Homo sapiens: one gene and its partners. The protein of the gene in region 1 purifies or fractionates together with the protein of each later gene. This does not show direct contact. Each region holds a gene or a part of one and is shown in the gene's direction. Other genes may lie near its edges. The genes, in order: KPNA3, NCBP3, KIF22 and NCBP1.

Region 1 (7,413 bases):
CCCAAAGTGCTGGGACTACAGGTGTAAGCCCCAACATGTCTTTTAATAGGTCTCTCCTATATCAGCCTTTAACCTTTTTTAGCCATTCTGCATACCATTGATTTGAACATTATTTTCTTTCCTCCCTTTTTCAATGCCCCATCCTTAGCATATCTGTAGAATACACTCCTCACTCCCATCCTGAAACACACACACACATGCACAAACACCCTGTTACTTGCTTCTTAGTTAGTTTCAGCTCTCTTGATCTAATCCTTGTCGTTCCTACACATCATGATCCTTCCATGCATGATACCTGTTTTATTTCCCACTGTCACTGCCTTTCTTTTTAAATCCATCTTTGAAAAGCTAGTTCAGTTGTCACTTTCTTTGTGAGGTCTTCCATTACTATTCGAAAATATAATGATCTTGTTTTTTCAACAAAATTATACAGCCTTGTAATATCCCTAGTATGTAAAGCAGATGGTGTAATGGAGACAGATGGGGTTCTAGCTTTAAGACCAGCCTAGAGCGTGTGATAGTGGTTAAAGTGAGATGATGAGGGCCTCAACTAGCACTTGATATTAGGGGTGATTATATAAATGTAAGAAATGTTTAAGAGGTAAAATCGACATGATATATTGATTAGATGTGTCTGTGGAGAGGAAGTCGAAGTCAAGGGAAATAATGACTGGCTAAATGTTGTAATACCAGTGGACATAAAGAAGCAGGTTCATAGTGACTGGCTTTGGGAGCCAAAGAGATTTTTTAAGTAGAGATGGCTGCTGGGTGCAGTGGCTCATGCCTATAATCCCAGCACTTTGGGAAGCCGAGGTGGGCAGATCACCTGAAGTCAGGGGTTCAGGACCAGCCTGGCCAACATAGTGAAACCCTATCTCTACTAAAAGTACAAAAATGAGCCAGGTGTGGTGATGTGCACCTGTAATCCCAGCTACTTGGGAGGTGGAGACGAGAATCACTTGAACCCCAGAGGCAGAGATTGCAATGAGTCAAGATGGCGCCACTGCACTCCCGCCTGGGTGATGGAGGGAGACTCCATCTCAAAAAAAAAAAAAAAGTAGGGTTGGCTAGCAGGCAATTGGATTATAACAAGGTGAAATTCAAGGACAAGGCAAAGAATAGCCATATCTTATCAGTCTTAAGATTCATTAATTTAAGTGGTAGTTATGTGTCTAAAAAGATGTGTTATTGTTTTTTTACAGTCCTTCATTACAGTTTGAAGCTGCTTGGGCATTAACTAACATAGCATCAGGAACTTCTGCACAGACTCAAGCTGTTGTGCAGTCTAGTAAGTAAATTCCTTACTGTCTGAACTTTTTGTGTTTTAATGATGGCAAGGAAGTAGAGTTTTGTAATAAAGAAATTTTATCTTGTAACATTTTTTAAATGATGACTTTTATAAGTTACTTTTGATGACCGATATCTTTTTCATAGCCGTCATTAATTTATCATGAAAAATTTTTAATTGTGGTTATTAAAAGAAGAGTAGAGTTTTATCTTTTGGAGTAGACATCATGCTGTGATAACAGGATTTTAAATTCCGTTTCTGATATCTTCAAGATGCTGAATGGCTTCTGCCTTTTAGCTTATGACATATTTTAAATTTTACTTTCCTCAAGATGGGCTAATAATTATTGTTAAATGACACTGACACAAGCTCTTTAGAAAAGTACTAGATATCACCACGTACGTTATTATAGTATGGGACACTTAGCTAATTTTAGGTGTGGTAATCAAGGTGATTTTAAGTAGCATGTGATATGGCAGTAAGTTACATTGAATCATGTATTGAGAATACTATTCTCACCAGACCCACAGGTGGCTCATGCCTCTAATCCCAGCACTTTGGGAGGCTAAGGCAAGCAGATCACTTGAGTTCAGGAGTTCAAGAACAGCCTAGGTGACATGACAAAATCGTGTCTCTACAAAATATTTAAAAATTAGCATTGCATGGTGGCGCATGCCTATAGTCGCACCTACTCAGGAGACAGAGGCGAGAGGATCGCTTGAGCCAGGGAGGCAGAGGTTGCAGTGAGCCGAGACTGCACACTGCATTCCAGCCCCGGCGACAGAGTGAGACCCTATCTCAAAAACAAAGGCTGGGTGCAGTGGCTCAAGCCTGTAATCCCAGCACTTTGGGAGGCCGAGGCGGGTGGATCACGAGGTCAGGAGATCAAGACCATCCTTGCTAACATGGTGAAACCCTGTCTCTACTAAAAATACAAAAACAAAATTAGCCGGGCATGGTGGCGGGCGCCTGTAGTCCCAGCTGCTTGGGAGGCTGAGGCGGGAGAATGGCGTGAACCCGGGAGGCGGAGCTTGCAGTGAGCCGAGATCGTGCCGCTGCACTCCAGCCTGGGTGACAAAGCGAGACTCCACCTCAAAAAAAAAAAAAAAGTTATCATGTGACCCAGCAGTTCTACTCCTAGGTGAAACCAAGAGATATGAAAACATATTCATACAAACACTTGTACATAAATATTCACAGCAATGTTATTCATAACTAACCCAAATGTTCATTAACCGAGGAGTGGATAAAGTGAATGTGGTGTATACAATGGAATACAATTCAGCAGTAAAAAAGAATGAAGTACCAATACCTGTTACCACATGGATGAACCTGAAGAATGTTAAGTGAAGTCAGACCCCCCAAAAAACACAGTATGATTTCATTTGTATGAAATGTCCAGAATAGGCAAATCTGTAAAGACAGAAAGCAGATATTTAATGGTTGCCTGCCGCTTGGGGAATGTGTGGCAGAGGAACAAATGTGGAATGACTGCCTTAAGTATGAGATTTCTTTTTTCTTTTTTCTTTTCTTTTTTTTTTTTTTTTAAGACGGAGTCTCGCTCTGTCGCCAGGCTGGAGTGCAGTGGCGTGATCTCAGCTCACTGCAACTTCCGTCTCCTGGGTTCAAGCAATTCTCCTGCCTCACCCTCCCAAGTAGCTGGGACTACAGGCACACACCACCATGTCCAGCTAATTTTTGTATTTTTAGTAGAGACGGGGTTTCACTATGTTGGCCAGGATGGTCTCAACCTCTTGACCTCGTGATCTGCCCGCCTCGCTTCCCAAAGTGCTGAGATTATAGGTGTGAGCCACTGTGCCCGGCTGAGTATGATATTTTTTTTTTTTGAGACAGAGTCTTGCTCTGTCACCCAGGCTGGAGTGCAGTGGCACGATCTTGGCTCACTGCAACCTCCGTCTCCCTGGTTCAAGCAGTTCTCTGCCTCAGCCTCCAAAGTAGCTGGGATTACAGGCGCCCACCACCACGCCCGGCTAATTTTTATATTTTTAGTAGAGACAGGGTTTCACCATCTTGGCCAGGCTGGTCTTGAACTCCTGACCTGGTGATCCATCTGCCTCGGCCTCCCAGAGTGTTAGGATTACAGGCATGAGCCATCATACCCAGCCAAGATTTCTTTTGAGGTCCTGGAAATGTTATAAAATTAGATTGTGGCGATGTCCTCACAACTCTGTATAAATATGAAATGTCATTGAATTACACACTTAAATGTAAATTTATTGTAATTATATCTCCGTAAAGTTGTTAAAACTGAATTAATTTAAATTTTAAGTAAATAATACAAGTAATACACAGATACAGCAAAAAAAAAAAAATGAGGTAGTGCACAGTTGATTGAAATTTTTAAAAAGTGATCTAGCTTATGCTGGAAATGGGTATAATGTATACATTCTGTAAAGAGTAAGGATTATGAGAAATTATTTTAAAGTATAAGATAGACCTGATATGAGATTAATCAGTTCTTTGGTTAATCCCCGTATCAGGAATTGAGATTTTGTAGACTAAAGCATTACATTTTAAGGTTACATGTTTGGGGTAGGAACTCTTTTTTTTTTTTTTTTTTTTTTAATGGATTATAGGAAGGATTTCATGCTGTTGCTTTCTTTTAGTTAATGGTATGATAGCAACCTTTAGATACTGCCAGTTGGTTACGGTACTTGACTATTACTAGGGGAAAATACTGAAATTGATTCTTTTTAGGGTAAAGATATTTGCCACATTTGTTCTTCCAGCTACAATATGCCAGGCTGTGTATTTGATCAATTTCTTTGATCTGAAATCTGTAAACTCTTCAACATGTTGCTAGTATAAATATTAGTTTTTCTTTATTACAGATGCAGTACCTCTTTTTCTGAGACTTCTTCGTTCACCACATCAGAATGTTTGTGAACAAGCAGTATGGGCTTTGGGAAACATTATAGGTAAGTGGTTTGAAAGGAATCCTCTTAAGAATCTAAATTAACTTTTTTCCTACATTGGCATAGCCATTACATACTATGTTTCCTCTGAATTTAATGTGTGTTGACTCTCTTCTTGCCTCATAAGTACTGACTTAAGATGATGCTCTTTGAAAAGGATATACAGTTTGCTGTTAGCATTGGTAGGTTAAATTTACGTTCCCCAGATCAAAATCTGGAGAAACAACACTTGATGCCTTTGACTAATGGTGAGGAAACATAGAACGTCAGTGTTCCCACATGAGCCATTGCATACATTTCAGACTTTCTCATCCTGAATGTAAGTTTTTTTTAAATATAATTTTCATTTCTGTAGGTGATGGTCCTCAATGTAGAGATTATGTCATATCACTGGGAGTTGTCAAACCTCTTCTGTCCTTCATCAGTCCCTCCATCCCCATCACCTTCCTTCGGAACGTCACATGGGTCATTGTCAATCTCTGCAGGAATAAGGATCCCCCGCCGCCTATGGAGACAGTTCAGGAGGTAAATGAAGAATTGTAAAGGCCAGATGGTATATTTTCCCTATGTTTGTACTTCAGGAATTCATATACAGGGGACAAAATAATACATATACTGATTTCATTGCAGGTGTGAGTTTTTTGTTTGTTTGTTTGTTTGATAACGGAGTCTTGCTCTGTCGCCCAGGCTGGAGTGCAGTGGCGCGATCTTGGCTCACGGCAAGCTCCACTTCCTGGGTTCACGCCATTCTCCTGCCTCAGCCTCCTGAGTAGCTGGGACTACAGGCACCCGCCACCACGCCTGGCTAATTTTTTTGTATTTTTAGTACAGACGGGGTTTCACCATGTTAGCCAGGATGGTCTCGACCTCCTGACCTCGTGATCTGCCCGCCTCGGCCTCCCAAAGTGCTGGGATGACAGGCCTGAGCCACCACGCCCAGCCACAGGTGTAAGATTTTAAAAGTAACGTACCATATTTAATTACTCCTATGAAATAAAAGTTGAGTGTCTTACTGTACCTGAAAGAATGTCAGTTCATCCTAATGCCTATTTTTTTGATTATCTGCATAAAAAGAAAATATAAAAATTCAGAGAGAAAAATACAAAAGGAAAACAATCTCAAAGTTTTATTACTGTATTGCATTGTTGGTTTAAAGCTATAAAAGGGGGTTGCTACAGGCAAAACTAGTATACTTACATGCAAATGTTCTTGAATGAGTTTGCTTTAAGTCCAATTGATTTTTTTTCTTCTTCTTCTTCTTTTGAGACAGTCTTGTTCTATTGCCCAGGCTGGAGTGCAGTGGCATGATCTCAGCTCACTGCAGCCTCTGCCTCCTGGGTTCAAGCGAGTCTCGTGCCTCAGCCTCCTGAGTAGCTGGGATTACAGGCCAGCGCCACCACACCCGGCTAGTTTTTGTATTTTTAGTAGAGATGGGGTTTCACTGTGTAGGCCAGGCTGGTCTCAAACTCCTGACCTGAAGTGATCTGCTCACCTCAGTATCCCAAAGTGCTGGGATTACAGGTGTGAGCCACTGCCCCCACGGCCTAACTCCAATTTATTACTGACAAAATTGGAGTTCTTAAAAGTGTGACATATTTTTTGTTAAATCTACTAATTAAAACAAAGTAAAAACTTTTTTATTTACATTTGATATGTAAATAGATCCTTGTGCTTTGCATTTTAAAAAAAAATCCTACATAACCTTTATTCACTGTTGACTGTGTTATCTCTTTTTTTTTTTTTTTTTTTTGAGACAGTCTCGCTCTGTTTCCCAGGCTGGAGTGCAGTGGCACAATCTTTGCCCACTGCAGCCTCCACATCCGGGGTTCAAGCGATTCTCATGTCTCAGGCATGTGCCACCATGCCAGGCTAATTTTTGTATTTTTAGTAGAAATGGGTTTTCACCATGTTGGCCAGCTGGTCTTGAACTCCTGGCATCAAGCAGTCCACCCACCTCACCCTCCCAAAGTGGTGGGATTACAAGCATGAGCCACCACACTTGGCCAACTGTGTATCTTTATAATGGACATCTTTCTCTAGTACCTGCTACTTTTTGTTGCTATGCAAAGGTATTTTGTGTGATTTCCTACAACCCCCTGCTCCCTTTCTCCCATATTTTAAAAAGAGATCTCTGGGGCCTGAATTTAACAAGCAAAGCTTTGTACTTTGTACTGGTTCGAATTTTCTTGACTAAAGGTGAAGTTGAAAACTTTAATTTGACTTAAGTAGCTTATTAAGTAAAATCGTATTTTTACGTTAAGCAGGTAAGTGAGACAATTACGGCAGTTTTAAGTGTAGCTTTTCTTAAATAGCTGTAACTGTATATTTGCATCTCCATTTTTTCCACTTGACATTTTATGCCATAAAGAAGGTTATTAAAAACAAATGTTTTTATTTTAAGGTACATTAACTTCTGCCAGATTTATTTGGATATTTTAACTTGTTAATTGAACATATTTCAGTTTAACATTTGAGATATGTTTTTGGTTTTTTTAGATTGAATTTATCAGGTTTTCATTTTCCTAAAAGATATTCAGACAAATTTAACATTGTCTTTCTCGCCCTACAAACCATATTTACCGCTTTTTATGTCAAAGTTGTTCATTTTTACAGACATATTAATTAACTAATGTTAAGTATTGTTTATTTTCTTTCCTCAGATTTTGCCAGCTTTATGTGTCCTCATATACCATACAGATATAAACGTAAGTTAAGAAGCAGCTTAAATGTGGGATTTTGCTCTTGATGGGACAGAAAGGGTTTTTATGTAAGTGTCAGCATACATTTTATCAACTTGTCAAGTTTCTACAACGTATTTACAGTTTTCAGAAATAGGATTAAGCTTAAATTAGGTTTATAGCTTAAATCTGTAAGCAGTAACAGCCAGACAGCAAAAATGCTCACTTTTGAGAAATTACTGCATATGTAGTTTATTTCTGTCATTATTAAGTAGTGTTTTTAAACCTTAATATTTGTAAAGCGGTAAAACCTCATGAAACACCTTACTTTTTAAAAAAAATCTCACTGGTTCTTACAACAGATAGGCTAGATATTATTCCCCCCATTTTATAGAATAAGAAGAAACGGACTCTCAGAGAGAGATTAAATGACTTATCTAAAGTGGAAGAGCTAGTAAGGGTCAGAGTCAATATTCAAATTAAAGTCTTCTCATAACAGGTCTTGGGTACT
Region 2 (7,413 bases), on another chromosome or scaffold:
AGGCGATAAGAGTGAGACTCCATCTCAAAAAACAAACAGAAAAACAGAAAGAACCAGACTGGTTGTGATGACTCACACATGTGATCCTAACACTTTGGGAGACTGAGGCAGGAGGACTGCTTTAGCCCAGGAGTTGGTGACCAGCCTGGGCAACATAGGGAGACCCTGTCTCTACAAAATAAAAAAAAAATTAGCTGGGCATGGTGGCATATGCCTGAGGGCCCAGCTGAGGGGGAGGATGGCGTGAGCCTGGGGAGTCGAGGCTGCGGTGAGCTGTGATCATTCTACTGCACTCCGGCCTGGGCAACAGAGCAAGACACTGTCACCAACAAAAAAAAAAAAAAAAGGAAAAAAGAACCTGCAGATGTCAGGCCGACTTTTATTATAGGTTTTTCCTCAATTGCTGTCTGAATTTCTCACCCTTCCCCTTTGTGTTAGGACACGAGCAGAAGATATGAAAACAAGGCTGGCAGCTTCATCACTGGAATTGATGTCACCTCCAAGGTAAGACAGGCTATGATTTATTTATTCAGCTTGATAAGCAAGTGAACTTAATGAATTTGATCCCTAGGACATAACAGTAAATATTTCCTCTTTTATTTTGTTGCTGGATTTAAATTTTTTTTCTAAAAAAAATTGTGTTATTGGCCAGGCACGCTGGCTCATGCCTGTAATCCTAGCATTTTGAGAGGCCAAGCAAGTGGATCGTTTAAGCCCAGGAGTTCGAGACCAGCCTGGGCAACATAGTGAGACCCGTCTCTACGAAAGATACAAAAATTAGTCGGGTGTGGTAGCACAGGTCTGTAGTCCCAACTACTCAAGAGGCTGAGGTGGGAGGATCGCTGGAGCCTGAGAGGTTGAGGCTGCACTGAGCTGAAATCGTGCCACTGCACTCCAGTGGGGGCAACAAAAAAAAATTTTGTGTTATACAACGATGTCTTCATGCATCCTGAAACGGTACAGGCAGCATTTGTGTGTTCTTACAGCCATGAAAGGATAAAATCACTCTACTTAGATACCTGTGTTGAACCGTTTCCAAGAAAATGTCCAAGACGGGGGATGCTTTTTTAAATGGTATGTCCATTTCTAAAAAAATGTGTACTGTTTCCACTTGAAATGAAACAAAACATGAAAAGTGCCTGGCAGATGGTAGGCCCCCCATATTTAGGTGGAGTCTCGCTCCGTTGCCCAGGCTGGAGTGCAGTGGTGCGATCTCGGCTCACTGCAGCCTCCACCTCCTGGGTTCCAGCGATTCTTCTGCCTCAGCCTCCTGAGTAGGTAGGACTACAGGCGCCCGCCACCACGCCTGGCTAATTTTTGTAATTTTAGTAGAGACAGGGTTTCATTGTATTGGTCAGGCTGGTCTTGAATTCCTGACTTCAGGTGATCCACCTGCCTCAGCCTCCCGAAGTGCTGGGATTCCAGGTGTAAGCCACCGTGTCGGCATAATAGGCCCTTAATAAGACTATTGCCTTGTATCTGATGATTGCTATTACCAGATTACCACCTTCATTGTAACACCTCATAGAGTCAAGCCTATTATTTTCCTTATATGTAGTCAATACATGTAAGTTGCTTTAATCAGTGATGTTCCGTTTTAGACATTTTTTCTGATTTTAATGTTTACAGTTAAGTTTGGAACAGAATTTTGTATTACATTTCTGAATAATAGTATATATTGCTGTATTGAATACATAAAAGCAAAAATAAAAATATATTTCGTGCCTTCCTTTTTATAGTGTTTTTTTTTTTTTTTTGAGACAGAGTCTCACTCTGTCACCCAGGCTGGAGTTCAGGGGTGCGATCACGGCTCACTGCAACCTCTGCCTCCTGGATTCAATTGATCCCTCTGCCTCAGCCTCCCGAGTAGCTGGGACTACAGGTGGATGCTATCATGCCCAGCTAACCTTTTTATGGTTTATCTGTGTCTCTTGTGTTTCCAATCACTTAAAGGCCCCCCATCCCCGCAAAAAAAAAAAAAAAAAAAGAGAGAGAATTGGTCATCTTTTAGACAAGAAAAGAGAATAAAGTGAAAATCTTTTCTTACTGTAATTGAAAAAGTAAACTATTCATAATCTTACACTGTTTGCCATTATATGACACAGGTATATGGGAAAAGGGTGATAGTCTCAGAGTTAGTACTTTGTTTCTAAAGGAAGGTAAATTGTTGTTTGTACTAGGAAGACTTCAGTGAAGAAAATGAGCGTTAACTATTGGGAAAGAACAGAAGTGTTGCAACTTTACCAATCCCCACAAGCTCTCTGTAGTCAGACCTTCAATTAGTGTGGCAAAGTCAATATACAATTAGTGAAGGGGACTGGGCGCGGTGGCTCACATCTGTAATCCTGGCACTTTGGGAGGCCGAGGCAGGCAGATCACGAGGTCAAGAGATCGAGACCATCCTGGCCAACATGGTGAAACCCCGTCTCTACTAAAAATACAAAAATTAGCTGGGCGTGGTGGTGTGCACCTGCAGTCCCAGCTACTCAGGAGGCTAAGGCAGGAGAATCTCTTGAACCCGGGAGGCGGAGGTTGCTGTGAGCTGAGATCGTGGCAGCCTGGCGACAGAGTGAGAGTCCGTCTCAAAAACAAAAACAAACAAAACCAATTAGTGAAGGGTTCCTAAGAGCCATCAGAAACCCACAGTTGGACCTGGGTTTATTTTAGCTCTTAGAAGAAACTTACAAAGCTGATTATTTTTTCAGTAAAGTGTCAATGGTTCTTATCACTTAGAGATGAAAACTGGTGATTCCGTGGACACGAGGCTGGAAGAGGAGGGAGAGTTTCTTTGCTTCGGTGTTATTTTTAAACAGACTAGCTTTAGGGAGTGGACTGCTCAGGCAGTTATAATGTGGAAGAGCGTGATAGGTGTGATTACCATTGCTCAGACAATGTGAAGTGGTTGTAGGTGGGCTCCTAGAAATAGCACTGGAATCAGATCTGCTTGCTTAATAGCTGAAGTATCTCCAGCAAACCTTTTTGCTTTTTTGTGCCTCCATTTCTGCACCTGGAAAATTGGGATGTTGAAATTGTTTAGTTGTAATTTGTTGGCATAATTGATAATAACAAATGAAGTGTCATATAACTTTATAAACTTTAAAGGACTATTCATTCAGTCAGCAGATACTCACTGAGTTCCTACTATGTCCCAGGCACAGTGATAGGCTGTGTTATGTCGGAGATGGTTGCAAATTACAGCGATATTAACATATCCCCCCAGTCATTGAGTGTGAATATCCAGGTCTCTGCCAGACTGATTCAAGGTGTAGTGTTGCTTATTTCTTCTTTTTTAGTTCAGGTTTGTCACTGATGCATCATGATGCATGTGTGATTTAACTCGCCTTCTCCATATTTTACTACTTTCACTTTTTCTGTACTTTCTAGGAAGCAATTGAAAAGAAAGAGCAGCGAGCCAAGCGCTTCCATTTTCGATCGGAAGTAAATCTTGCCCAAAGAAATGTAGCCTTGGACCGAGACATGATGAAGAAAGGTACAGGGTGTTTTGTGGGAAATTTGTCCACATTTCCCCAGAGAGTGCCTTTTCCCTGCCATCACCTCATGCTTCTGGCCTTGCCTTGCGTGTCCACTCCTTATCCAAGCACTCTTGTGAGAAGGGACCTGTGAAGTCTCCATTTCTGAGGTCACCTGTTTAAAGTTCAGATGCTGTCAGCTGGCTCAGATGTTAGAGCTGGGAAATAAGAGATTGTCTTTTCTGAGGAGGCCCAGAAAAAGTTACCAGTTAGTGGCAGAGCTGAGATTCGAACCTGTGCTTCTAAGGACCCTTACTCATTTTCTCCTTTTATCGTAGAGGTGTTAACTTTTCTTTGCCTTTAAACGTAGTGAAAGTGTATCACAGTGAGACCTTCTTTTCGGGGAGTTAGAGCAATTTTGAGATTGGTGGGGAAAAGCCATTAACACTTTTGTTGATAATCTGAATCTATTGGCCAGGTGTGGTGGCTCATGCCTGTAATCCCAGCACTTTGGGAGGCCAAGGCAGGTGGATCACTTGAGGTCAGGAGTTTGAGACCAACCTGGCCAACATGGTGAAACCCCATCTCTACTAAAACTACAAAAATCAGCTGGGAGTGATGGCTGGCGCCTGTAATCTCAGCTACTCGGGAGGCTGAGGCGTGAGAATCGCTTGAACCTGGGAGGCAGAGGTTGCCGTGATCCGAGATTGCACCACTGCACTCCAGCCTGGGCGACAGAGCGAGACTCTGTCTTAAAAAAAAAAATTCTGAATCTATTGATAATCTGAATATCTGATATATGTAAACCACTCAGTAACATCCTGTTGTCAGAGAAAGCTAAACTAATCCTGCCCTGAGTTTTAAGCCTGCGCTTACAGTTGGACTTGTGATTTGATTTGATCTTTGTGTTTTTTTGGGGTATTTTGCTCCCTAGAACTCACCCCGAATTATTGTATATAGTAATCTGCCGCAGTTTTCTAAAGCAATTTATAAATAAAAGGAAAAATTACTACTTTTTTAGTGAGTCTATGTTCTTATTTATTATTCTACTATAATATAAATCCATGAATGCAGAAGGCTTCCCTCTGTGTTATTTGCAAATTTGGGTGTTCATAAAGGGTTTAGTAGGCAGCCTTCTGAATGCATGTTAAAGGCCTGTGCTGTATTGTATGAGCTTCTCTAGCCTTGTTTGGTTGATAAAAGCAAAAGCTCTGTAAATATATTGAATGAATGAAAGAATAGCTGCTATTTGTTGTGAACTTGCTTTTTTACTAGACTCGTTAAGCACATTATATATTTCTTTCTTTTTTGTTGCTCACAACAACTGTATGAGGAATTTATTTTTATCCCTATTTTATAAAGAGGAAGCAGGCTCAAAGAAGTTTAATAAATTGCCCAGGGTCATGTAGCTAGTAAAGGTGGAGTCAGGATTCACACCCAGTTTCTTTGACTCTAGAGCCTTGCCCTTAACTCCTTTGCTCTGTTGCTGTGTAATGTAGGATGTGGTGCTATCGACTGATATTGCGTCCCTCCTCAGTCAGTCCTAATGGGCCCAGCAGTGTGGATGCAGAGCTGAACTCTGGAAGCTGCTTCACTCTTTATCCTGCATGACCAGTTCAAGTCAGAAACACGCCCTTGCTTCCCTCATGGGCGGGGTTTCTGTTTGAGGAGAAGTCCTGTGAAGGCCAGGTGTGGCTTGACCTTCATGTGCCTGCACAGCCGGGCGCAAGCATACCTGTGAGTCTCTCTCACAACTCTACCGCGAGGGCGTCATAGCTTTATCACACCTGTCGACCTCTGGTCCCGAGAGCATTCCTTGAGGCGGCTTGCCTCTGATACGGCTCATGCCTTTCATTCTGTGCATTTGCCCTTCCTTGTCCCATGCTTTATCTCTGGTCAGGTGTCACTTCCCCCGTGGAGCATCTCTGCTCACCCACTTGAAGTGTTTTCTCACATCTGTTGGAGCTCTTTAGGGCGCAAAAGCCTCGTAGAATCTAGTCTCAGTTCCTTTGTGACTGAGGACAAGTTCTTGAGCCTTGTTAGTTTCAGTCTCCTTGTCTGTAAAATGGAAATATGATACTTACCTTAATAGGATCACTTTTGGGGTTAACTTTTAATTTAAAAAAATTTTTTTTTTTAACGTACAACTCCAGTCTCACGGTTCTAAAGATATTCCTAAAAAAGGCAGTAAGGTCGGCCGTGGGATGTCAGCTGGGGAAGCTTGCTTATTTCAGTCGATTCTTTGTCCAGGAGGCAGCATGGCCTAGGATAGTGTTCCTGAGCCCTGGGGAACCCTGCTGCCCATCTCAGACCACTTTATATTAGTTGGAGTTGGATAGGTCCCAGGGATAGTTACTGGTTTTCTTTTCTTTTTTTTTTTTTTTTTGAGACAGAGGCTTGCTCTGTCACCCAGGCTGGAGTGCAGTGGCGCAATCTCGGCTCACTGCAACCTCCACTTCCTGGGTTCAAGCGATTCTCCTGCCCCAGCCTCCCGAGTAGCTGGGACTACAGGTGCATGCCACCACACCCAGCTAATTTTTTGTATTTTTTAGTAGAGACAGGGTTTCAAGCTCCTGACCTCCTGACCTCGTGATCCACCCACCTTGGCCACTGCCCAGCATTTTTTTTTTCCTCTCTTTCTGTAGCCCAGGCTGGAGTGCAGTGGCGCGATCTCGGCTCACTGCAACCTCTGCCGCCCGGGTTCAAGCGATTCTCCTGCTTCAGCCTCCTGAGTAGCTAGGATTACAGGCACCTGCCACCGTGCCCAGCTAATTTTTGTAGTTTTAGTAGAGATGGGGTTTCACCATCTTGGCCAGGCTGGTCTTGAACTCCTGACCTTGTGATCCACCCGCCTCGGCCTCCCAAAGTGCTGGGATTACAGGTGTGAGCCACTGCGCCCGGCTGATAGTTATTCTTTTTATATCTTCTCAGGTAATTTTTATTTATTTATTTTTATTTTTTATTTTTTTTTTGAGAAGGAGTCTTGCTCTGTCACCCAGGCTGGAGTGCAGTGGCACGATCTCAGCTGACTGCAACCTCTGCCTCCCAGATTCAAGTGATTCCCCTGCCTCAGCCTCCCGAGTAGCTGGGACTACAGACGCACACCACCATGCCCAACTAATTTTTTGTATTTAATAGAGACGAGTTTTCACCATGTTGACCAGGGTGGTCTCGATCTCCTGACCTTGTGATCCACCCGCCTCGGCCTCCCAAAGCGCTGGCGTTGTAGGTGTGAGCCATTGCGCCAGGCCATCTTTTCAGGTACTTTTAATGTGCAGACAGGATTGAGGACCATTGGTTTCATGGTTATGAGCATGAGCTCTGAAGCCTAGTTACCTGGATTCAAATCTTAATCTGTTACTTTCTAGCTCTATGGCCTCGGGCAAGTTATTTAGCCTCTAAAAATCTCAGTTTCCTTATCTGGAAAGGCAGATGACAGGAATTCTTTTTTTTTTTTTTTTTTTTGAGAGACGGAGTCTCACTCTGTTGCCTAGGCTGGAGTGCAGTGGCGCAATCTTGGCTCACTATAACCTCCGCCTCCTGGGTTCAAATGATTCTCCTGCCTCAGCTTCCTGAGTAGCTGGGATTACAGGCACCTGCCACCACGGCCAGCCAATTTTTATATTTTTAGTAGAGACGGGGTTTCACCATGTTAGCCAGGCTGGTCTTGAACTCCTGACCTTGTGATCCACCCGCCTCAGCCTCCCAAAGTGCTGGGATTACAGGCGTGAGCCACTGCGCCCGGCCAATGACAGGAATTCTTATAGGGCTGCTGGGAGACTCTAACAAAATGTTACAGTCCATAGAGTGGCGCTTGGCACATGGCAGGTGCCCAGTTAATGTGGCTTATTATCATCATCTGGTATTCTCCATCTTCCCAGCCGTCATTTAAGTGACCTAGCTTCTTGGGCAAGTGAGGAAATTGGAATAACCATGTTGACTC
Region 3 (7,447 bases), on another chromosome or scaffold:
TTTTGAGACAGAGTCTCACTCTGTCGCCCAGGCTGGAGTGCAGTGGCGCCATCTCGGCTCACTGCAAGCTCCGCCTCCTGGGTTCACGCCATCCTTCTGCCTCAGCCTCCCGAGTAGCTGGGACTACAGGCGCCCGCCCCACACCTGGCTAATTTTTTGTATTTTTAGTAGAGACGGGGTTTCACCGTGTTAGCCAGGATGGTCTCAATCTCCTGACCTTGTGATCCGCCCATCTCGGCCTCCTAAAGTGCTGGGATTACAGGCGTGAGCCATCGTGAGCAGCCTTTTTTTGAGGAGTCTCCAACTGTCACCCAGGCTGGAGTGCAGTGGTGCCATCTCGGCTCACTGCAAGCTCTGCCTCCCGAGTTAACGCCATTCTCCTGCCTCAGCCTTCCGAGTAGCTGGAACTACAGGCACCCGCCACCACGCCCAGCTAGTTTTTTGTATTTTTAGTAGAGACGGGGTTTCACCGTGTTAGTCAGGATGGCCTCGATCTCCTGACCTCATGATCTGCCTGCCTCAGCCTCCCAAAGTGCTGAGATTACAGGCGTGAGCCACTGCACCCGGCCTGGAAGTTATTTTTTAAAAATCAATTGTTTCTTTCTCTGTCATCCCAGCAGGAGTGCACAGGCATGACCTCAGCTCACTGCAACCTCCACTTCCTGGGTTCAAGCGATCCTCCTGCCTCAGTCTCCCAAGTAGCTGGGACTATAGGCACATGCCACCACATCTGGCTAATTTTTTTTCTTTCAGATGGAGTCTTGCTCTGTCCCTCAGGCTGGAGTGCAGTGGTGCAATCTCAGCTCACTGCAACCTCCAACTCCTGTGTTCAAGTGATTCTCCTGCCTCAGCCTCCTGAATAGCTGGGATTACAGGTGTGTGCCACCACGCCGGGGTAATTTTTGTGTCTTTAGTAGAGACAGGGTTTCCCCATGTTGGCCAGGCTAGTGTCAAACTCCTGACTTCAGGTGATCTGCCCGCCTCAGCCTCCCAAAGTGTTGAGATTACAGGCATGAGCCACCACGCCTGGCCAAACCACCCTAATTTCTACCAGCCAGATGCAGATCCTTAAAACAACCCTAGGAGGTATTTCAACCATTATTCCCTTTTAATATCTGAGGAAATGGAGGCACAAAGAGGCTAAATCTCTGGTCTGGGCAGCCTGGCACCAAGGCCCTGTACCTAAATGGTTTATTCAAACATAGAAGCCCTATCTCCTTGATCTATGCTCTTTTCACTATTTCTGGCAGGTTTCTTACCAAATATCTGGAGTTGACAACAAATGTGAAAACTGAACAGCCTTTTCTGACAGGCAAGGAAGACCAAACTGCCAATTGCCAATGTCAGATGTTCTCAAAGTATGGTCCAGAGACTTCTGGGAGTCCCTGAGACACTTTCAGTGGGTCTACAAGTTCAAAACTATTTTCATAATAAAACTAAGATACCAATTGACTTCTCTTGCATTGTTTCTCAAGTATATAGTGGAGTATTCAAAATACTATATTATATGTGACATCACAACAGCATGAATGCAGAAGCAGATATGAGAATCTAGTTTTTTTGTGTGTCTTTGAGACAAGGTCTCCCTCTGTCACTGAAGCCAGAGTGCAGTGGCACCATCACGGCTCACTGCAGCCTCAAACTCCTGGGCTTAAGCAATCCTCCCACCTCAGCCTCCCAAGTAGCTGGGAATATAGGTGTGTGCCACCATGCCTGGCTAATTTTATTTTTTAAGAGATGGAGGTAGGCCAGGCACAGTGGCTCACGCCTGTAATCCCAGCACTTTGGGAGGCCGAGGCGGGTGGATCACGAGGTCAGGATATCAAGACCATCCTGGCTAACACGGTGAAACCCCGTCTCTACTAAAAATACAAAAAATTAGCCGGGCGTGGTGGCAGGTGCCTGTAGTCCCAGCTACTCGGGAGGCTGAGGCAGAAGAGTGGCGTGAACCCGGGAGGTGGAGCTTGCAGTGAGCCGAGATGGCGCCACTGCACTCCGGCCTGGGCCACAGAGCGAGACTCCGTCTCAAAAAAAAAAAGAGATGGAGGTCTAGGCAGGGCTTGGTAGCTCACGTCTGTAATCCCAGCACTTTGGGAGGCCGAGGCGGATGGATCACCTGAGGTCATGAGTTCAAGACCAGCCTGACCAACATGGAGAAACCCCGTCTCTACTAAAAACACAAAATCAGCCATGCACGGTGGTGCATGCCTGTAATCCCAGCTACTCGGGAGGCTGAGGCAGGAGAATTGCTTGAACCCAGGAGGCGGAGGTTACGGTGAGCTGAGATTGCGCCACTGCACTCCAGCCTGAGCAACAGAGAGAGACTATGTCTCAAAAAAAAAAAGTGCACACCTCTCTGGTTTTTAGTATGTTTATTACGTTACGCAGCCATCATCACTACTTCATTCCAAAATATTTAATATTTCCATCACCCCCAAAAGAAACTCGTTATATCTATTGCTGTAGTGCCAGCTCCTCAGCCCCTCACCATCCCCTGGCAACCACTACTTAGATGTCCTTTTTATGTCTATGGGTTTTTTACTGTAATTTTTAAATTCATTAATGTCAACTTTAATTTAGTTTCACTTCACACACAGTATATACGGCCAGGCCTGGTGGTTCACACCTGTAATCCCAGCACTTTGGGAGGCCAAGGCGGGTGGATCACTTGAGGTCAGGAGTTTGAGACCAGCCTGGCCAACATGGTGAAACCCTGTCTCCATAAAAATACAAAAATTAGCTGAGCGTGGTGGTGCACACCTGTAATCCCAGCTACTCGGGAGGCTGAGGCAGGAGAATCACTTGAACCCAAGAGGCAGAGGTTGGAGTGAACCGAGATTGAGCCACTGCACTCTAGCCTGGGAGATGGAAGTGAAACCCCGTCTCAAAAACAAAAAAACAAAAACCCTCATATACACAAAACATCTTTGGAGGCCTCATTTTTAAAAACTGTAGTGGGATCCCAAGGCAAAACGTTTCAGAAACACTGATCTAAGATTTGTGTTTTTTGTTTTGAGACGGAGTCTCACTCTGGCGCCGTGGCTGGAGTGCGGTGGCACCATCTCGGCTCATTGCAACCTACACCTCCCGGGTTCAAGCGATTCTCCTGCCTCAGCCTCCCGAGTAGCTAGGACTACAGGCGTGCCACCATCCCCGGCTAATTTTTGTGTTTTTAGTAGAGACGGGGTTTCGCCATGTTGGCCAGGCTGGTCTCGAGCTCCTCACCTCAGGTGAGCCTCCCGCCTCAGCCTCCCAAAGTGCTGGGATTACAGGACTGAGCCACCGCGCCCGGCCCGTGTTTTGTTTTGTTGTTCAACAGGGTGGAACATAATGTCTAAACCTGGGCCCTACCTACCTGGTGCTCAAAAGTGGAATGACCGTCCCTAGCCAACCCTTCAGAAAGGACAGAGAGCTACTCAACGGACTGCTGTACTCTTAAGGACTGGGAACCGGAACCGTGGGTGAGTGGGACTGAATCACAGACTAAGCGTTTTCCACGCTTCGCCGACGTGCTGAGTGCCAAGTTATAAAGACAGGAACATCCAAGCTGCTCTCCTGGGCTGACACGGACGCGAGGGGACCTACAGTGGCCTTGGGCCCAGCAGGCAGCGACTGCAACGTGACTGCCCAGAGTCCAGCCCCTGGGGCCCAGATCTACAGAACCGACCAGACGTGATAGCCCTTTGGCTGGGGCTGCAGTCCCACGATCCACACAACGACCCTGGCTCCGCAGACGCGCCAACCACCCACGGAGGCAAGAAACTGCAGAAAGTAAAGGGAAAGGGAGCCCAGTGCCGGGCGGCGCTGAGCAGCTCCCCCAGCGGCCACCGTCGCCAACATCCCTGCGTAGGGGTTTGTATCGCAGCGCGCTTCCAGACATCAACGGCTGCGCGGCCCACGCGCGCGCATGCGTCCTGACCAGGGGAACCTTTTCTTGGGGACCCGGAGGCGAGCGCTGGAAGGCGGGATAGTGGCGACCCACACGCAGCAGCTTCCGGCGGCGCGTAGTCTTGATTGGTGGAACCTGGGAGAGGGGGCGGGGCACCGGGGAATTCGAATGGGAGAGGCGGGCCCAAGGAGGGAGTGGAATGGCCGCGGGCGGCTCGACGCAGCAGAGGCGACGCGAGATGGCGGCAGCTTCAGCGGCGGCGATCTCAGGTACTTGAGCCCGGCCTGGGCAAGGCGGGTACCGACGTCTGGAGTTTAGTGGGAGTTATGTGTCGGAGTGTGGTCCAGGCTCTGCGGGTTGTCGCGGAGAGGCGGCCATGGCGCAGGGGCGGGGAGAGGGGGACGGTGAGAGTGTGGGGTCGCGAGCCGGTCGCCCCGCCTGGCTCCTGCCTTCTCCCTGTTTCCTGCTCTCCCCTTGGGTCAGTAGACTCGGGTCTCCGGTCCAGGCTCTTGGCTTGAACCCCGCGCACTTTTTCTTTGTGAGCTTCGGTTTCTTCGTCTGTGAAACGGGGGTCATGGCCTCATCCCTGGAGATCACCTGAATAAGCAAGAGAAGAGTGGCGGACGCTCTAGCCACGAGGACGAGAAGAAGGGAGCCGGAGGCGTGTATTGGGAAGGGTTCTGTGTGGGACATGGTGTTTGGGTGCAGAGACATCCCTGAGAGATGCAAGAGGACGGGCTGAGGAACAGACCCGGCTGCTGCTGGGTTTGAGTTGGCAGCGTAAGATGCTCTGCGATTACAGGAAAACGAAATAAAAGACTAAAATTTCCTTTCACTCTAGCATGGAAGTGAATGCTATTTTAGGGTTGGAAAGGCTGTTAGGACACCCAAAATCTTGTATGTGAGTATTTGTTTACATGTGCCTCTCTAACCCGGAGACTTAATCCTCGTTAGTGATGATGGTGAGCGCCATAGTAATTCACTGGAGCCCTCGTTAGCCTCGTGGGGAAACAGACATTTAGGAGAATGCCTAACACATGTAGAGCTCTTGCTATGTGCCAGGCACAGTTGTAGGCATTTTATGGTGGTGAACCATTTATTGTCCACACAATGCTATCAGGTTGTTACTATTACTGTCTTTGTTTTACACAGGAAACTGAGGTTAGTTTGTTCAGAGTTAACACAACTAGTAAATATTGGGGCTTGAATTCGCTCTCAAGGAGTCTGAGTGTAGAACCTCTGCTCTTAACCATTATGCCCAAGTACATGTTATCCCTGCTGGCTGAGCACAGTCTCCCCTTACCCTTCGAAGATGCACTGTGTCCGGTGCATGGTAGATATGAAAATGCCTGAATGAATAATGTCCCTTCCTCGAGGAATTTACAGTCTGTTTCAATAGAGTGTCACATACGTAGATGTAATACGAAACACAATGAGAGATGTGTATAAACTGAGGGTGTGGAATCTGAAGTAAGCCCTTGAGTATTCTGGGAGGACTTCATTAAGGGAGTGAATGATACTTGAGATGGGTTTCAAAGGTTGGATAGGAGTTTGCCAGGCCTTGACTAAGAAGACAAGAACAGCAAGTGTTTTCTTATTTATGATGTAAGATGCTCTCTTAGCTCAATTTCCTCATCAATAAAAGGGAGAAGAGTGAATGAAATTTAGGAATTGTGAAAGAAGGGAAAATTAATAATTGCTAGCCTGGTCCAAGCTCAAGGTTGCTTTTATCATGAAAGGGCTAGACTCTTGTGCAGTAAATAATTGTTTACATGTGGCCCTCCCCTCTTCCCTCCTACCCTGGACTGTGAGCCCTGGGGCAGGAATGGCCGTGAGCCATTTTCATGATGGAAATGAACAAGCCAGTGATTAGTAGTTTATTCACTAAATCTTAATTTTTTTCAGCAAATACTTCTTGAGGGCCTACTCTGCGCCAGGTGTTGGGGTTAGAAAGGTGAGCAGGATAAAACTTGTTCTCACAGTTGGCAGTCAGGTGGAGAAAGTGACAAACACGCAATAGTGGGGTGTGACAAATGCTTATGGAGGGGCTAACATGAGCTGTGGTTGCACCTGATAAAGCCTTAGTGTCTACCAGGAAAGGGTTTTTGGTTTTGTTTTTTAAGAGGAGTTAAAATGTGTTTACCTTAGTCACTCCAGGGTGGGGTGGGGAGCAATGCAGATATTCTAGGGAGAGAGATTAACGTGGACAAAAATCCAAAGGTGCAAGAGAACTTGGAGTTTTGTAGGAAGTGAAGGAAATTCATCATGACTGGTAACTTACACTGCAAGGAAGGAAACAGAGGGAATGACTAGAGGGCAGGGAGACACCTTGCTACCACCAGCAAGGAAGGCTGTAAAGACCATGACCTTGGGCAGAGGTAGTGCAGTGGGAGTGGAGAGAAGTGGACTTGTTCAAGAGAGATTTAAAGAGATAGACTTGACAGATGTTAATGATGAACTGATGTGGGAGGTAAGAGACGTTGGAGTTAAAGACTCCCACTTTTGGGGTTGGTGCCATTCATTTACATCAGAGATCAAAGGAGGAGGCTGCAGAGAGATGGGGAAGGAGGGTTCAGTTTAGGACAGGTGGAGTTTAAGAGGAGCCGTCGGCTGGGCTCACGCCTGTAATCCCAGCATTTTGGGAGACCAAGGTGGGTGGATCACGAGGTCAAGAGATCGAGACCATCTTGGCCAACATGGTGAAACCCTGTCTCTAAAATTAATCAAAAATTAGCTGGGCGTGGTGGCGTGCACCTGTAGTCCCAGCTATTCGGGAGGCTGAGGCAGGAGAATCGCTTGAACCGGGAGGCGGAGATTGCAGTGAGCCAAGAGCGCCACTGCACTCCAGCCTGGCGACAGTGAGATTCTGTCTCAAAAAAAAGGAGCCGTCAGGGCAGCCGTTCAGAACGTGGGCTGCAGTTGAGAGCTCTTGTGCAGAACGTGCAATAGGACTTATCAGCTGTAAGATGTTACTGAAGCCAAGAGGGCGGGTGACCTGCCTATGAAATGAATCTGAGTGGTCTCAGCTCGGGGCAACTTTGTCCCTCACAGGACATTTGGAGATGTCTGGAGAGATTTTTAGTTGTTACAACTTGAGGGTGAGGGTGGAGAATGCTACTGGCATCTAGTAAGCATATGCTAACAGTCTAAATGCACAGGACAGCCCCACAACGGAATTAGCCAGCCCGAAATGTCAGTAGTGCTGAAGTTGAGAAATGCTGGTCTAGAGAAAGGATAGACGGATCCTAGGATGAGGAGTGAACAGAAAACTAGGTAAGACAACCAGGAAGGTGGGGGGCATGGAAATGAAGGGAAAAGTGTGTTTCCCAAGAGTGTCGCATACTTCTGGGAGGTCCAACAGGATTGAGGCTGAGTATGCCTACTGGATCTAGCACTAGGGAAGTCATGGGTGACCCTGCTGAATAGTGAGGGCAGAAGCAAGTTGCAGGGATGGAGGAGTGGGTAGCAAGAGAAAGGGTGTAATAATAACAGCTAAGGACTGAGCAGTTGCTGCCAGGCACTGTGCTAAACATTGTATGTACATTATTACTTTGAATC
Region 4 (7,413 bases), on another chromosome or scaffold:
TGCATAGCCTTCAGATACCTTACTAGGAAGTGCCTAAATTAATGCATCATTCATACCTCCTTTTTTCTGCCCTCTCCCCAGCTCATACAGTGGCCACTGTGTACTGAATAACCCATCTAGAAAGCTGAGCATTAATTTTTGTCTTCCCTTTGCCCTCTCGTACCATAGGTGTTCCCAATCCCTGTCAATTCTGTCTCCCTAATTTCTCTCAAGTCTGTCCTTTCTTAGTCTCCAGGGCCTCTAGCATAGTTTATGCCTTCCTCCAGATGTTCTTAATAGCCTCTTAACTGATCTTTTTGCATCTAGATTCTCTGCTTTTCACTTTGTGTTCTACAGTGGCACCAGACTGGTCTTTCTATAACTAGGCTCTGCACATGTTGGTTACTGGTTAAAAAAACCTTAGTTCCTTCCCATTGTCTACAGTGAGTGGTCTTAAAAGCCTGGTGCACAAGATGATTCCTTGGGTTTCAGGAAGTGAATATTAAGAACTCTTATTTATCTTAAGTGGAAATGAAATTAAACCTTACTAATAATACATAGATTAATGGTGATCCAGTGTATATCATAAATACATATGTATGTGTTGAAGATATGTGATCAAATTCTTTTTTACTGAGTACACAATCAAAAAAGTTTGGACACCCATCAGGCTATAGGATTAAAGTCCAGACTCTTTAGCCTGACCCTTTATGGTTTCCCCAGTCTGTTTCTCTATTCTTGTCTCCCATATGCTCCCCAGCAATATCAAAATAACTTGCAGATCCCTAAACACACCTTGTTTTTGAACCTCTATGCCTAGACTGCCCTCCTTGCTCACTACTTGAGGCTGTTGCTATCCTTTATGACCTAGCCTAATTGTTACCTCCTTTGTGATGCTTTCCCCAACTCCCTTTGTCATTGTTCCTAAAAAATGCTTAATTTGCCTTTTAGTGTGGGAGTCATTCCTTTGTATTGAGATTGTGCTTGTTCCACTAGAATGGGTCCCCTAACAGTGACTTTTAGTAGTGTTTAGCAATAGCACACTAAGCACACCCAATAAATATGTGTTCTGTAATTTCCATTTCTGTAATTCAGTGAAAATTACAGCCAAACAGAAAAGGAGATTATAGGTTGAAGTAGCTAGAATATTTTACAATCTGGATTCTTGATGTAGTATAGCATAGAAACGTATGAACTCACAGATTACTGTCCTTTATATAGTCTTTGTTACAACTTCTCAATTCTGCCATTGTAGCACAAAAGCAACCATAGACAATATGTAACTGAATGAGCGTGGCTATTCCACTAAGTTTACTTATGGGCACTGAAACTTGAATTTCATGTAATTTGTATATGTCATAAAATACTCTTGATTTTTTTTTCACGCATTTAAAAATGTAAAAACCATTTTTAGTTCCCAGCTATGCAAAAAACAGGTAGTAGGCTAGATTCAGCCCTTAGGCTATAGTTTTTTAGACCAATAGTTTAGCCTATACAAGATTGCTTATTTTGTAGTTATTATAAAGAACATTTAGGTTTAATAGCAGAAATTGTTTGCCCCAACAGGTCCGTTTTTTATCTGATCTTGTGAATTGTCATGTGATTGCCGCCCCATCAATGGTTGCTATGTTTGAAAATTTTGTAAGCGTAACTCAGGAAGAAGATGTACCTCAGGTAAGAGAACCCCTCATGCTGAATCTTGAGGGGTTCTTGAGGGGTTACTGAATCCTGGTACTTCCATATAGTACCAGGAATTTTTCGCTGATAACCCATTAGCAATAAAGAAAAAAATAACAGCAGACTATCACACTTTAAGTTCTTACTATCTAAAAATTAAGCTGACTGGCACACTGGTGGGTTCTCATAATATCTGTATGTTGATTTAAATGATGCTGTCTAGTAAGATTAGAACTAATATATCTAGAAATGCTCTGTATAAACCAGATGTCTTATTTAAGTCCTATTAAATAGCTTCCATAGGATTTCATTCAAGAATAAATAAAATATGAATGAATATAATTAAAGCATATTTTAAACTTAACTTTTTAAAAATCCTTTAGGTGCGACGAGATTGGTATGTGTATGCATTTCTGTCATCTTTGCCCTGGGTTGGAAAGGAGTTGTACGAAAAGAAAGATGCAGAGATGGACCGCATCTTTGCCAACACTGAAAGCTATCTTAAGTAAGGGCACAGCTCATAGTACTCTTTGTTGCTTAGGTAAAGGATATCTTATATCAGTGATACCATTTGAGTTTCTCAAAAATAAGCTGTAGAGTTCCTGAAGGTATTTTCTAGGTAATCCTGTTCTCCTGCTGTTTTAACTCACTGAGACCTCAAAGTAGTCAGATATGGTTTGCTTACTTTTGCCAGTGCAAAGGACAGTTGGCAATATAGCTTCTTTTAAGCTGCTTTTATATGTTTGTTTATAAAAGACATAAAACACCCTAGTGCAATAGTTCCTCAAATATTAGTGTGGATAAGAATTACCTGTGGTACTTAAAATACTCAGACCCCAACCCCCAGACCTGATAAATTATACAATTTGAGAGAGAGGTTTGGACATCTGTATTATTAACACATTTCACAAGTGGAGAACCACTGTCCTAGCACATACAGTATATTTAGTTCATGTAAATTAATCTTAAATCAAGCTCTTAAAACAGTGGTCCTTAACCCTCCATCCAGCCAGTACTTCTTAAGTAATATGACACATTTCAATTAAAATAGTCACATGTCTTCCCATTACTCATCTCTCCTAAGCCAATGTAAAAGCTTGGTTTATATTGTTAGATACAATAATAATAAATAGGTCTTTTTAGTAAATTTATGCTTAACTATCCAGCAACATGGTAATGGTTATGTGGCCCTTAGGTTTTTACAGATTGATTTTGTTGTTAAGTTTCATTTTCTCTTTTTTAAGTGCTTTTTTTGGATAACTGTTAATAGCTACTTAGTTGGTTATTAAGTAAAGTTAAAAGAAGCTTAAAAAATAAGAATCTTTTGGCCGGGCGCAGTGGCTCACGCCTGTAATCCCAGCACTTTAGGAGGCCAAGGCAGGTGGATCACCCGAGGTCAGGAGTTTGAGACCAGCCTGGCCAACATGGTGAAAACCCATCTCTACTAAAAAATACAAAAATTAGCCGAGCGTGGTGGTGGGTGCCTGTAATCCCAGCTACTCGGGAGGCTGAGGCAGGAGAATTGCTTGAACCCAGGAGACGGAGGTTGCAGTGAGCCGACATGGTGCCGCCACTGCACTCCAGCCTGGGCAACAGAGTGAGACTCCGTCTCAAAAAAAAAAAAAAAAAAAAAAAGAATCGTGTGTGTGTGTATACATATCCTTTCTCTTTTTTATTCAAATGATAGCCCAATATACACACTGTTCTTCACTTGGCTTTTTTTTTTTTTCTTACTATAACTTGGATTTGTTGCATAAAAATACTTAACTCTACTTCATTCTTTTTAACAGTTGTAGGGTATTTCACTTTTTAATGTACCATGATTTCCGTAGTCTCCTGTTGGTGGACGTTTAGGTTATTTTCAATCTTTTGCTCTTATAAACAATGTTTCAGTGAATATCTTTGTGTATATGTTTTTATGTACATGTGCAAATATATTTATGGGGGATATAAATTTTTAGAAATGGCATTGCCGAGTTGAGGGTTCTAAACAATTTTGATAGATTTAGTCAAATTACCTTCCAAAGAGATTATACTTTCCCAAAGAGATTATATCAGTTAACCTCTTTGTCAACAATGTTTGAGACTGAATCTTGACCTGCATCTTGATGATACACAGTACATTATCAAAACAGTTGATATCTGCCACTCCAGTAGGTAAAATGTTATTTCATTGCTTTAATTTGCATTTTAATAACTGTGAGGGTGACTGAGCATCTCTTGTTTTTAAAAGCCTAAATGTAGATTTTCATTTTTATCTTTAGAAGACGCCAAAAGACTCATGTACCCATGTTACAGGTATGGACTGCTGATAAACCACATCCACAAGAAGAGGTAAATGGATTTCAGTCCCTTGTGATACAAACACAGTCAGCTCTTGAATAGATTCTTATCTCTGTAAGATACTCAGACCATTCCATTTTACCCTTTGACTGTGTTTCTACATTTCATGATAGTTCCTTCTCATAGCTCAAGGTGTATGGTAGGTCTTTAATAGATGATAGAATGTAATTGAAATATTCCCTTGTTCTTTGGAATGCCAGCTATTACAGAGTTGACATATATTTATTTAAATGCTTAATTTGAAAAATGTCAAAACAGACAGTTCCAAACAGGTAGACTTTGTAAGTAAAATAAAAACAAAAACTTAGCACCTTTTTTTGTACCATCTTACAAGTTAGCTTACTTTTGTATCCTGTATTTTAAAGGGTAGTGATTTTTTCATTTTGTCTAGTCAAAATGTTAATTATATTAATGATTAAAAATTAATCTGTCTTTAGTATTTAGATTGCCTGTGGGCCCAGATTCAGAAATTGAAAAAGGATCGCTGGCAGGAACGGCACATCCTAAGACCTTATCTTGCCTTTGACAGCATCCTGTGTGAAGCACTGCAGCACAATCTGCCTCCTTTTACACCACCTCCTCACACTGAAGATTCAGTGTACCCAATGCCAAGGGTCATCTTCAGAATGTTTGATTACACAGATGATCCCGAGGTAAGTGACCGACTAAAAGTCCTAGATATTGACCTGTGTTGCATTGTGCTTGTGGGTTAATCCCGCTTGAATTATGCCTGTGGTATGTTTTAATTTTGAGTTGTTTTTATCTAAGAAGGTCAGTAGCAATGAAGTTAACTTTTTAATTCAGTGAATGATATCACCTCATTATGCAAGAAATTATATTTGGCATGTGTAAATAGATTACAGAGACGTGCACAGTTTGCAGGCTAAGAGTGTGGGTTTTGGGTTTTTAGAGCTACGTTGGTTTGTGTTTTAATCTTGGTTTAGCCAAATACTAGCTGTGTTAATTTGGGAAGGTTATTTACCTCCCTGTGCTTTCATTTCCTGAAGGTAATAATAATAGTATACATCTCATAATAGTAGTATATATCTCATGTTATGAGGATTAAATTATTCACATGTAAAATGCATAGAACAAGAACAGTGTCTGTCACATGATGAATGCTCAGTCATTCTGGCAATTTTTCTTTCTTATTTTTTTCTTTTCGAAATGGGGTCTTACTTTGTTGCCCAGGCTGCAGGTGAGATCTAAGCTCACTGCAACCTCTGCCTCCTGTGCTCAAGCGATCCTTCCACTTCAGCCTCCTGAGTAGCTGGGACCACAGGCATGTGTCACCTAGCCTGGCAAATTTTTTGTAGAGTTGAGATTTCGCCATGTTGCCCTGGTTGGTCTCAAACTCCTGGGCTCAAGCAATTCGTCCGCTTCGTTTTCCCAAAGTGTTGGGCTTACAGGCATGAGCCACTGCACCTGTCCATAATTATACTTAATAAGGTTATTTCTCAGTAAAAGTACCTAGTTTTAGGTATGGTCCCTCTCTAGGCAACACAGCCTGTCTTGTGATTATTCATATTGTATGATTATTTGAAAACAAATGTTGGAAGTATTTTTAATTAAAAAATTCCAAAGATTAGTCTAAGCTGACTTTATCATTTTTAATATACATGTTCTTTATTTCAAAGTCAAGTTTCCTGGCAGCCATTGTACTGTTATAATTGTATATTGTACAATTAAGAAAATTTATAATTTTCATTGTGGGTACTATCCTGTGTATTGTAAGATGCTCAGCGGTGTCCCTGATCTCTACCCTCTAAATGTCAATAGCACTCTCCCTGCCTCAGTTTTGACAACCAAAAATATCTCCAGAGAGTGCAATATGTCCCCTCAAGAGCAAAATTGCCCCCAGTTGAAAACTATTGCCATAAAAATTAATATTACCACCTAAGTCAAATTTGAGTTTCTTCTATTGTCTCTTTTCTGTTCTATGGTAAAGTGCTAATGACCAGTAGGAATTTAGTATATATGTAATCTATTTTGGAATAAAAATTTCTCAGATAATCAGTTACATATACAAAATTATCAGCTTGCTGCCGTCTTTGCTATATTCCATATGTAACCAAATACTTTAGTCAAAATTATGTAATGATCTACTTAGATATGTCTAACTGAAAATCTGGTTTACATTTAAGACTGCTAATGTTTGTGGTCGGGTATTTTTTTTTTTTTGTGCAGGGGAAACTAGAATGGGACCTCAAAATTTGTTTCTCCTGAATTTGTATTTAATTGGTATCACCTCTGTAAGGTGCATATCCATCCCTTGCTAGAAGAGTATAAATATATAAAATACATATTACTCCCAAAACGAACAGGATTTTGTTTCTGTTCTGGCCTTTTACAAGTTGTTTATTAAAAAACATTAGAAATTGTAAAAAAAAGATTAGAATCATCCAAAAGTCATTATTAAAGGTTTATTTTGTGTGTTTTGAACCTGTTTGCTATGAATATACTTAAGAATAAAATAATGCCATGTAGGGAATATGTTTTGAGCTTAGACAGTATATTATGGGCATTTTTCAATTCATGCATGACTTTTTATGGCTATGTGGTGTTTGAATAGAATTTTCTCTCTGCATAGTTATTAATGGAAATAATTCACTCTCGGTTTAAAAAATAAACTCTGTAAGACTTGTATTATCCAAAATTATTTAGTTTCATATAATAATTGGTGTGTAAAGTAGGCAGTGGTTGTATGGTTAGGTATGAGATGTGGTAGAAAAAACACTACAGCTGATACTCTGGGGTATAAGTGAACATGACAATGGAATTTCCTGAAATATAGAGCTTTAACACTTCAGAACTTTTATCCCCATCACCCAGTTTAGTGCTTGGAACATAATAGTCTCTCAAATATTTGTTGAATAAGTAAAAGAAATCTGTTTTCTAGGCCTGTAGTGTACACATTTGGTTTTCTTTCCAGGGTCCTGTCATGCCAGGGAGTCATTCAGTGGAAAGATTTGTAATAGAAGAGAATCTTCACTGCATCATTAAGTCCCACTGGAAGGAAAGGAAGACTTGGTAAGATTCTTTTCATGGTACTTTTAGAAGGGAGAGAAGCAGCAATTTTGATAATTCAGTAAGAGCAAAATATATGTTGAGAGTGTAAGAAAATTTTATCCTCCTGACTCCCTGTCTTGCTAAAATCAATTTCTAAAAACACTTGCTTTACTTTCTCAAGGCTCTTCACCCTTGTATAGTACTTTTCGAGGTGCTTTATAGTAATAAGCGTATGATGCCAGTGTGTTTGGTGTGGATATTTAGTATATGCTATGGAGAGCTTGAATGGCAAGTTATTTTGGGTTTGGATACCAATAGTTTTGCTCTGTTTTCTAGCATTTAGACACCCAAGCTTTGGAATTTTTTTTTTTAAATAAAATTTTCTTAAACTTTGGGAAGTTTGGT

What was found.
Region 2: the proteins of KPNA3 (region 1) and NCBP3 purify together in Homo sapiens (co-immunoprecipitation; 2 studies listed by IntAct, with this or other methods). This does not show direct contact.
Region 3: the proteins of KPNA3 (region 1) and KIF22 purify together in Homo sapiens (affinity purification with mass spectrometry; 4 studies listed by BioGRID and IntAct, with this or other methods). This does not show direct contact.
Region 4: the proteins of KPNA3 (region 1) and NCBP1 purify together in Homo sapiens (co-immunoprecipitation; 3 studies listed by BioGRID and IntAct, with this or other methods). This does not show direct contact.

What each region holds. Positions count from the first base shown.
Region 1 is NC_000013.11:49,719,291-49,726,703, reverse strand, and holds part of KPNA3 (importin subunit alpha-4), read left to right. Parts: intron 1-1,202; coding exon 1,203-1,288; intron 1,289-4,140; coding exon 4,141-4,227; intron 4,228-4,579; coding exon 4,580-4,749; intron 4,750-6,884; coding exon 6,885-6,929; intron 6,930-7,413. UniProt on the Homo sapiens protein: Functions in nuclear protein import as an adapter protein for nuclear receptor KPNB1. Binds specifically and directly to substrates containing either a simple or bipartite NLS motif.
Region 2 is NC_000017.11:3,836,177-3,843,589, reverse strand, and holds part of NCBP3 (nuclear cap-binding protein subunit 3), read left to right. Parts: intron 1-438; coding exon 439-504; intron 505-3,384; coding exon 3,385-3,490; intron 3,491-7,413. UniProt on the Homo sapiens protein: Associates with NCBP1/CBP80 to form an alternative cap-binding complex (CBC) which plays a key role in mRNA export. NCBP3 serves as adapter protein linking the capped RNAs (m7GpppG-capped RNA) to NCBP1/CBP80.
Region 3 is NC_000016.10:29,786,672-29,794,118, forward strand, and holds the start of KIF22 (kinesin-like protein KIF22), read left to right. Parts: upstream 1-4,079; 5' UTR 4,080-4,088; coding exon 4,089-4,158; intron 4,159-4,296; exon of another isoform or gene 4,297-4,550; intron 4,551-5,794; exon of another isoform or gene 5,795-5,843; intron 5,844-7,447. UniProt on the Homo sapiens protein: Kinesin family member that is involved in spindle formation and the movements of chromosomes during mitosis and meiosis. Binds to microtubules and to DNA. Plays a role in congression of laterally attached chromosomes in NDC80-depleted cells.
Region 4 is NC_000009.12:97,643,572-97,650,984, forward strand, and holds part of NCBP1 (nuclear cap-binding protein subunit 1), read left to right. Parts: intron 1-1,545; coding exon 1,546-1,653; intron 1,654-2,039; coding exon 2,040-2,161; intron 2,162-3,920; coding exon 3,921-3,990; intron 3,991-4,436; coding exon 4,437-4,652; intron 4,653-6,931; coding exon 6,932-7,029; intron 7,030-7,413. UniProt on the Homo sapiens protein: Component of the cap-binding complex (CBC), which binds cotranscriptionally to the 5'-cap of pre-mRNAs and is involved in various processes such as pre-mRNA splicing, translation regulation, nonsense-mediated mRNA decay, RNA-mediated gene silencing (RNAi) by microRNAs (miRNAs) and mRNA export.